2 linked regions of the Homo sapiens genome follow. The protein of the gene in region 1 interacts with the protein of each later gene in a biochemical or structural test. Each region holds a gene or a part of one and is shown in the gene's direction. Other genes may lie near its edges.

Region 1 (3,752 bases):
AACTGAATGTACCTGATCATTGATGTGTAGCTATGGCACCCACACTTCTTATTACTCGAGTTCATTTCTTTCCTGTCTCACTCTCAAGGCCAATATGGTTTACTTCCTGAAGTTCTGCCTAACCAAACTACTGAGATTTTATTTCCTTTGGAGGAGATTATGAGAGGATGTGTTTTTAATATCTAGTCCTTTCATTTTAGTGCAATCTTAAAGAAAAGGTACTGAGGATAAGCAGGAGAGAAGGCAGTCTCAGGCTTTAAACTCTAAACTGTTCTATAATCTCCCCCATTGCTTGTAAGGTGTACACATGTATACATTTTAAAACAATAGTTATACACATTACGATCTAGAGACAAGAAATCTTAAGTAATTATGTCCATTTTTGGGGGGCATGGGGAAGGACTTTAGAGAACTGTTGAGACCGTCAGATACGTGTTTTAACCTAAACCCAATCACCAAATTGTTCTTGAAGAGCAGCACTTTAATTTCAAAATCAAACACAAAATTTTACTGTCTGCTCAAGACCTGAAAAGGTAGGAAACATGACCAGTGGGAGATTTAAAGTAGAGATGGGGTTTCACCATGCTGGTCAGGCTGGTCTCAGGAGTTCGAGACCAGCCTGGCCAAACCTATCTCTACTAAAAATACAAAAATTAGCCAGGTGTGGTGGTGGGCACCTGTAATCCCAGCTACTCGGGAGGCTGAGACAGGAAAATTGCTCGAACCTGGGCGGTAGAGGTTGCAGTGAACCGACATCGCGCCACTGCACTCCAGCCTGGACAATAAAGTGAGATTGTGTCTCAAACAAACAAACAAAAAATTGATATAAAAAAGCCAGGTATAGTGGCTTATGCCTATAATCCCAGTTACTTCGGAGGCTAAGGGAGGAGGATTGCTTGAGCCAGGGAGTTAGAGAGGCTGAACTATGATTGTGCCACTGTACTCCAGCCTGGACAACAGAATGAGGTGCCATCTCTAATTCATGAATTAATTAAAAAGTGATTTAAAATATGTTTCTTTGTTATGGAATTTTAAAATTATAGAATTTAAAAAAATAACCTGAGACCTACAGATTAACATTTATCAATGAACTTGGGAAGATCAAGAGTGAAAATAACTGTGCTATGTGGGCTGATGAGAAATTTGATTATATAATGAGGACTGGCAAGGAAGTTCATGGATACTGGGTTCTGAAACCATATGGATATCACAAGCCAAAAATGACTGTGGAAAGAAGAATTTTATCTTTGAAGCAGCTTGTATTGACTCAGTTGATTTTAACAGACAGATCGTAGGTTACTCCTCTGTTTTAGATAAGAAATCTGAGGAAGAAGAGTAGATGCAGTGGTCTGTGTGCCAGAATCATCATGTGGCATTTGCTGGGTTTATCACAGAGATGCTTCCTTCTTCACCCCATTAGGGGAAGGTCACCTGTTTTGGAGATGGAGATAGTGATTGAGGAAGAGCGTAGGAGGCAGTCAGGAGAATTAACTGTCAGATCTGGCTCTGCTCACGGATTGCCAACTCCCCTTGGTAAATATTTAGAAAATGCCATAGTGTGTTTCCCTCTGTTGCTGCGTGTATTTCTTAATTCACAGCCAAGTGATCCACATTCTTCCATTTTCAGCCAGCCTCAGCTGAATATCAAACCATCAGGGGATCCCTAGCCTTTATAGCTCACGTAGTCTTAGAGGTGGTCATAGACAGAAAATGCTTCCTTAATGAATTGTCTGGCTAGCTTATCAAATTCCCAGACCACCTTTCATTTTTCTCTTTCCTTTTCCTGGTTGCAGGAAATATTACAAAGCCCTCTTCTTCCTACCTCAGCAAGCCCTTCTCAGGCTTTGCCATAATGTTTTATTTCCACATCATACCTGTGCAGACCTGGCTGAGGGTAGAATTACAAGGGCAATTAAAACTCAGCATATATCATGTGAGCAGTGGGGGCAAAAGTGGGCTTCCTTTCTTTCATTTGAATGTTATAAATTTAGCAAGTGAAAAGGCACAGGGCTGAAAAAAAAATAGGCTTTGCATTGAACCAGGCTCAGATCATCCAGGATATTTATGAAGAGACTAACGGCACCTTGATAGCTAAAGAACAATAATTGCTTCGAATTATAGTCAATTTAGGAGTTTCCACCATTGTGAAAAGGAGAAGAAACTTGAATAATTCCGAAAATGAATACTTTGAAAATATTTTCCATTTGTACCAGACTTAAATATGGGCGTGTCTCACTTGAGAATGTATAGCAATTCAAATAAAACAAAGCATACTTTAAAGGCATAAATTATGTGGACCAGAAAGAAGTCTGTAACCTTATTCTGTCCCTCTTTTGAGTCCCAGCCTGTTTCTAGAAGAACCCTAGGAGTGGTCAATTAGCTTCATCTTCCAGTATATTTCCAGAAGGGTGGAAAAGCAAGAAAAGGCCTTTCATAATACTGACTTCGAGTCATAAGTCATAGAGAGTTAGAGGTAGAAAGGCCCGAGAGAGAATTGAGGTGTATTCAAAAAGAGCAGACATTGGGTGTCTACCACGTGTCTTACACTGTTATGTGCTGAAGACACACAAAGAGATCAGATGGAGAATCACTGATCTGGTGCGAAAATGGCCTTGCAAACAAGCAGTGATTCAACAGGATGCCTGAGAGAGAGGGTGTACAGGAGGAAACATCTCATTCAGGTTGGGGAATGAGAAGACCTTTGAAAGTGCCTAGGATTTCTATAATGGAAGAAGGGAGGATGAGGGGGCCTGCGAGTGGGGCTTTAGGAAATTGCCCAGCACAGACAATAAAGCATGATTAGGTTAGGGGATGAAGTGTAGTTCCACATGGCAGAAGTGTGACCAGAAAGGTGGTTGGGGTTCAGCCTGTGAAGAAGTTTGAGCCACTGGAAGTTTTTAAGTCATAAAGGGGTGTGATGAAATCTTTGTTGACAAAGCTCACCAGTGGCAGTGAAGAGAAAGTGAATTAGATCCCAGCCAGTACAAGATGATGATCACAGATAACTATAGTCCACTCAATTTTCAGCATGCCTTTGTCTACACATCATCTTATTTTATCTTATGATGAGCATGTGAAGGGAAGATCTGATTATTCCTGGTTTCCAGTTACAAAACAGGATTAGAAATGTACATTTATATACTCAATGTCCCTCTAGTAGTTTATTCCAAAACCTGACTTTGACCCAGTTGCCTAGTTCTGAGGCTGGGGCTGTTTCCAGGTCTTCTCAGTGGAGTAATTGAATATTCTGGGCCTTCTGGTTGAGACCGCGGTTGCTTTTTTTCTTCAGCAGAATATTCCACATAAGTTCATTGGTTCTGGAGAGAAGACACTTGTTAATGGTATTACCCTTTACCATAGCCACAGAACCTCAAGAATGGCCCTCCAGAGTATGCACAGATGCTGTTCCAAAGCATGAATTAATGGATTCTCAGTAGCATGCCATAGATAAATGAAGGGTTCATCTGCCCGTTAATTGATGTTTTGGGTTTTTCATTCCTTTACCCCAAATTTACTGGGCATTATTGTGCTTATGCTTCATTTTGGACTTCAGCAGCCTCTTTTTGTCCAGTGATCTTGAGGGCCTTGATTTGTATGTCAGTCTTCAACAAATATTTACTGAGTTCTCATTTAATTTGCCAGACATGCTGTAGGCCCAGGGAATGTAACAGTGAATGTGGCAAAAATGTCTGAAGTCGTAGAGTGCACATTGTAGTTGGGGGAGAGAGGAACTAAATGACAAGCAACAGACA
Region 2 (3,752 bases), on another chromosome or scaffold:
ATTGAGACCGTCCTGGCTAATACAGTGAAACTCCGTCTCTACTAAAAATGCAAAAAATTAGCCGGGTGTGGTGGCACGTGCCTGTGGTCCCAGCTATTCAGGAGGCTGAGGCAGGAGAATAGTGTGAACCTGGGAGGCGGAGGTTGCAGTGAGCCAAGATGGCGCCACTGCACTCCAGCCTGGGCAATGGAGTGAGACTCTGTCTCAAAAAAAAAAAATTAAATTAAAAAAATAAAAAAAATATTGAAAGAGTGATTAGTAATGAAGATGGCCCCCAAAAAAGAGCAGTACCCAGAGGGGAGAGAGAATTCTGAATTGAGAGGACTGTTTCTAGAGTACCACAGCCAGCAGGGCACAGGCCACTGAAGTGTCTTGTATGTCTGACCCTGTGCAGTCCCTCCAAGTCCTGATTCTCTTGTGATGTATTGTGAAGGTGCTGTGAGTGACTTGGTTCAGGTGCGAATCTGTTAGGTTGTTGAGCAGACAGCTCTTCAGCATCCCCCGTATTACCTCTCTGTGCTGGGCAACAAATCACTACAGGCCTGGTGGCTTCGAACAGCAGCCATTTATTTCCTAGCTTCTGTGGGGCAGGAGTCCAGGCACAGCGAACTCAACCTAGGGTCTCATAAAGGCTGCATTCAGGGTGTTGGCTAGGGCTGGGTTCTCATCAGGAGACTTGACTCAGAGGATCCACATCCAGGCTCTTCTAGACTGGGGACAGAATTCCTTTTCTTAGGGCTGAAGCATTCTTGGCAGCTTTACTTCTTCAGAGCCAGCAGTAGAGACAGAGACTCTTATAAGATAGGTGCTAAACTCTTCTGTGATACAGCCCATCATCACCTTTTGTGAATTCCGCTACTTAGAAGCAAGTCAGAGATCTCACCTGTGCTCAAGGTGGGAGGGGATTACAGGAGCTGGGGGCCTGGGGCCACTGTGAAGTCTGTCTGTCACACTTACCAAGTGTGGCCAGGAGAGATGCAGAGGACACCGTCCATGCCCTTAGAGATGCTGTCTGTGGGAGGACTCTGCAGATGAGTTGGTCCAGTAGAGGCATGAAGTAAGTGGGGCTGTCTTTTACCACAGAGCACATGGTCATGAGGCAGAGCTGGAGGTGAATTTGAATGTTGTTGTATTCAGACGTAAAGTAATTTTGCTGAGAACCAGTTGTCATGAGGTATACTTACTTACCTTACTTACCTAAAGATTATCACAGTATTTAAACTGTAACTTAAGAGGTAAAAGTCTATTAAGTATGTTGATGAATATAACCTGCACAGTGGCTGGCAGCAAGTAAACCCTGTTTGGGTGTTCAACTTTAATTTTTTGTTGAAATATGTAAGCAGGAGAGTGCACCTACCGCAAGTGTTCAGTTTGTTCATTTTTAAAAACTGAACCCCCTGTATAACCAGCAGTCAATAAGAGCAACGGTAGCAGCACCTCAGAACACCCCCAGCACCTCCTTCAGTTCACTTGTCCCATCCCAGGGGTGACAACTGTCCTGTCTCCCAGGACAACCAAAACAAAGGTTGTTTTGCATCTTCTGCACTTTTAATGAATGGTATTACATGGTGTATGTTCTTTGCAGGTTGGTCTCTTTCACTCAGCGTTGCCTTCAGGAGAGTCATCCACGTGGTTGGTTTAGAGCACATTGTGTCACTATAAGCCTTCTTATGAAGACACTAGACTATCCATCTCCTATATGGATGGACTTTTGGGTTGTTTCCAATTGTGGTTTACGAGGAGTAGGGTTGCTGTCCACATTTTAGTACCTGGTTTTTGGTGAACACATTTGCTTCTGTGGGGTGTAAAATTAGGAGTGGAATTACTGAGTCATAGGGTATGCATGTGTTCAACTTTTGTGGATGTTTCCACATGATTTTCCAAAGTGAAACCCTGTTTTGAGATCTGGAATATTGACTGTCTTTCACTCTCCTTGGACCCTAGGGCTACAGAACTGGCTACCCTTATCGATACCCTGCTCTGAGAGAGAAGTCTAAAAAATACAGCGATGTGGAGGTTCCTGCTAGTGTCACAGGTTACTCCTTTGCTAGTGACGGTGATTCGGGCACTTGCTCCCCACTCAGACACAGTTTTCAGAAGCAGCAGCGGGAGAAGACAAGATGGCTGAACTCTGGCCGGGGCGACGAAGCTTCCGAGGAAGGGCAGAATGGAAGCAGTCCCAAGTCGAAGACTAAGGTGTGGACGAACATTACACACGATCACGTGAAACCCTTGCTGCAGTCTCTCTCGTCCGGTGTCTGCGTGCCAAGCTGTATTACCAACTGCTTGGTCTGTGCCTACCTTACTGTTCATAGTTAGATGACGTAGAGCAAGTTGGGTAGCTGGGGCTTCGGAGGCTTTGGGAATCCAGCCTTTCTGACCCAGGTGTAAAGCGAACCTTCCTTATTCACTTTCTTGTAGTCTGAACCTAAGTCCACTGAATGCATTACTAAAATTCGGATAATACTATCTGCTTGAAACTGCTTAAGATGTAATGTAACTCCGCAGTAGTTCCAGTATATCTCCGTATATAGCAAAAATATACAATAATTTACATGTATTAACCTACAAATAGGAGCTCTTCTTATTTAATTCAAATTATATTCAGGGACTCTTAATACTTCATGCACAAAAAGACACTTCAGTCCTAAACCTGTATTTTAGTGTTGTGAACTCCAGTGGTTTCAAGTCACTAAAGTTTCTTAAGTCTTCAGTGTTTTCTTAAGCAGTTTTCCCTTGTGGCTCCCTGGCGTGTTCTCTGCTGACTCTTGTCCCCTGCCCTTAGTGTTATTCCCCTGCTTTCTATCCCAAAGCCTCCGAATGCACACCCCCAGCTGCCCTCTGCATGGACTGTTGCATGTGAGTAGACGGCCATAGTGGCGAGTCACCTTCTGACTCCTGTTGGGTGCGGCATGACCCAAGTGCAGCGCAGGCCATCTGCAGGCACCAGCGACAGACGCTGCAAGGGGTGCTTCGTTTCAGCGTTAATGCCGCTCAAGTTATCGTTTGTCCTGAGAGGTGCTCCCATGTCGTGGTGCTGAGACCTCCTCTGAAGATGGGTCTTTATTCCTCCTGTAACCTACCTCTAACAGTCCACCCAGCTCTGCTTTAAACTGTATGTAGAAGAGGCCCATTTCCAGAAGCCCCTGGAATGGAGGAGACAGGGGCTGAAGCAGACTCATCTGTGCATGACTAGTTCATTAGGAGTTCAGTTGAAATTAGATTAGATGCTCCTAAAACCATGGGCAACCAAATACATAAAGTGGGGCTTTCTTTTCCCCTTGTAACAGTGTTTTACTTTATAGATTTATTTAAAGAAAAAAAGTTTTATCTTCCCCAGGTGGTCCTGGTGTTTTCCTGACGCAGTTGGTGAGAAGCCTCCGTGCTCCTGAGCGGCCGCGTCACCTGGGCAGGGACCCTGTGTGGCCATGGGGCTCTGAGCATGGGAGTGCGTCTCTCCTCTTCTTTCCTGCCCTCCTTGTCTTCTTTCCCCCCTTCTTCCTGTCTCCCCTTTTCTTTCATTTGTTTATTTTTTACTTGTTTCACTTGTTAAAGGAAGTGGGCGTTATAAAACAAAAAAAAAAAACCCCAAAACACCTTTCTGCGGCTGATGTGAAGCACAGTGCTGAATTGCCATGAGGAAGTTTTCCAAAGCGTTTAGGCAGCAGCGCGAGCTTTATTTACCATTAGCTTGCAAAACAACTAAGTCACTTTAGGCCTAGTAGTCAATGTGTACATCCAAGGGGAGGCCT

Evidence for each region. The genes of interacting proteins can lie anywhere in the genome.
Region 2: the proteins of SPTB (region 1) and ADD1 form a complex in vitro, tested with the Homo sapiens proteins (one study listed by BioGRID).

What each region holds. Positions count from the first base shown.
Region 1 is NC_000014.9:64,873,210-64,876,961, reverse strand, and holds part of SPTB (spectrin beta chain, erythrocytic), read left to right. Parts: intron 1-3,752.
Region 2 is NC_000004.12:2,902,820-2,906,571, forward strand, and holds part of ADD1 (alpha-adducin), read left to right. Parts: intron 1-1,944; coding exon 1,945-2,289; intron 2,290-3,752. UniProt on the Homo sapiens protein: Membrane-cytoskeleton-associated protein that promotes the assembly of the spectrin-actin network. Binds to calmodulin.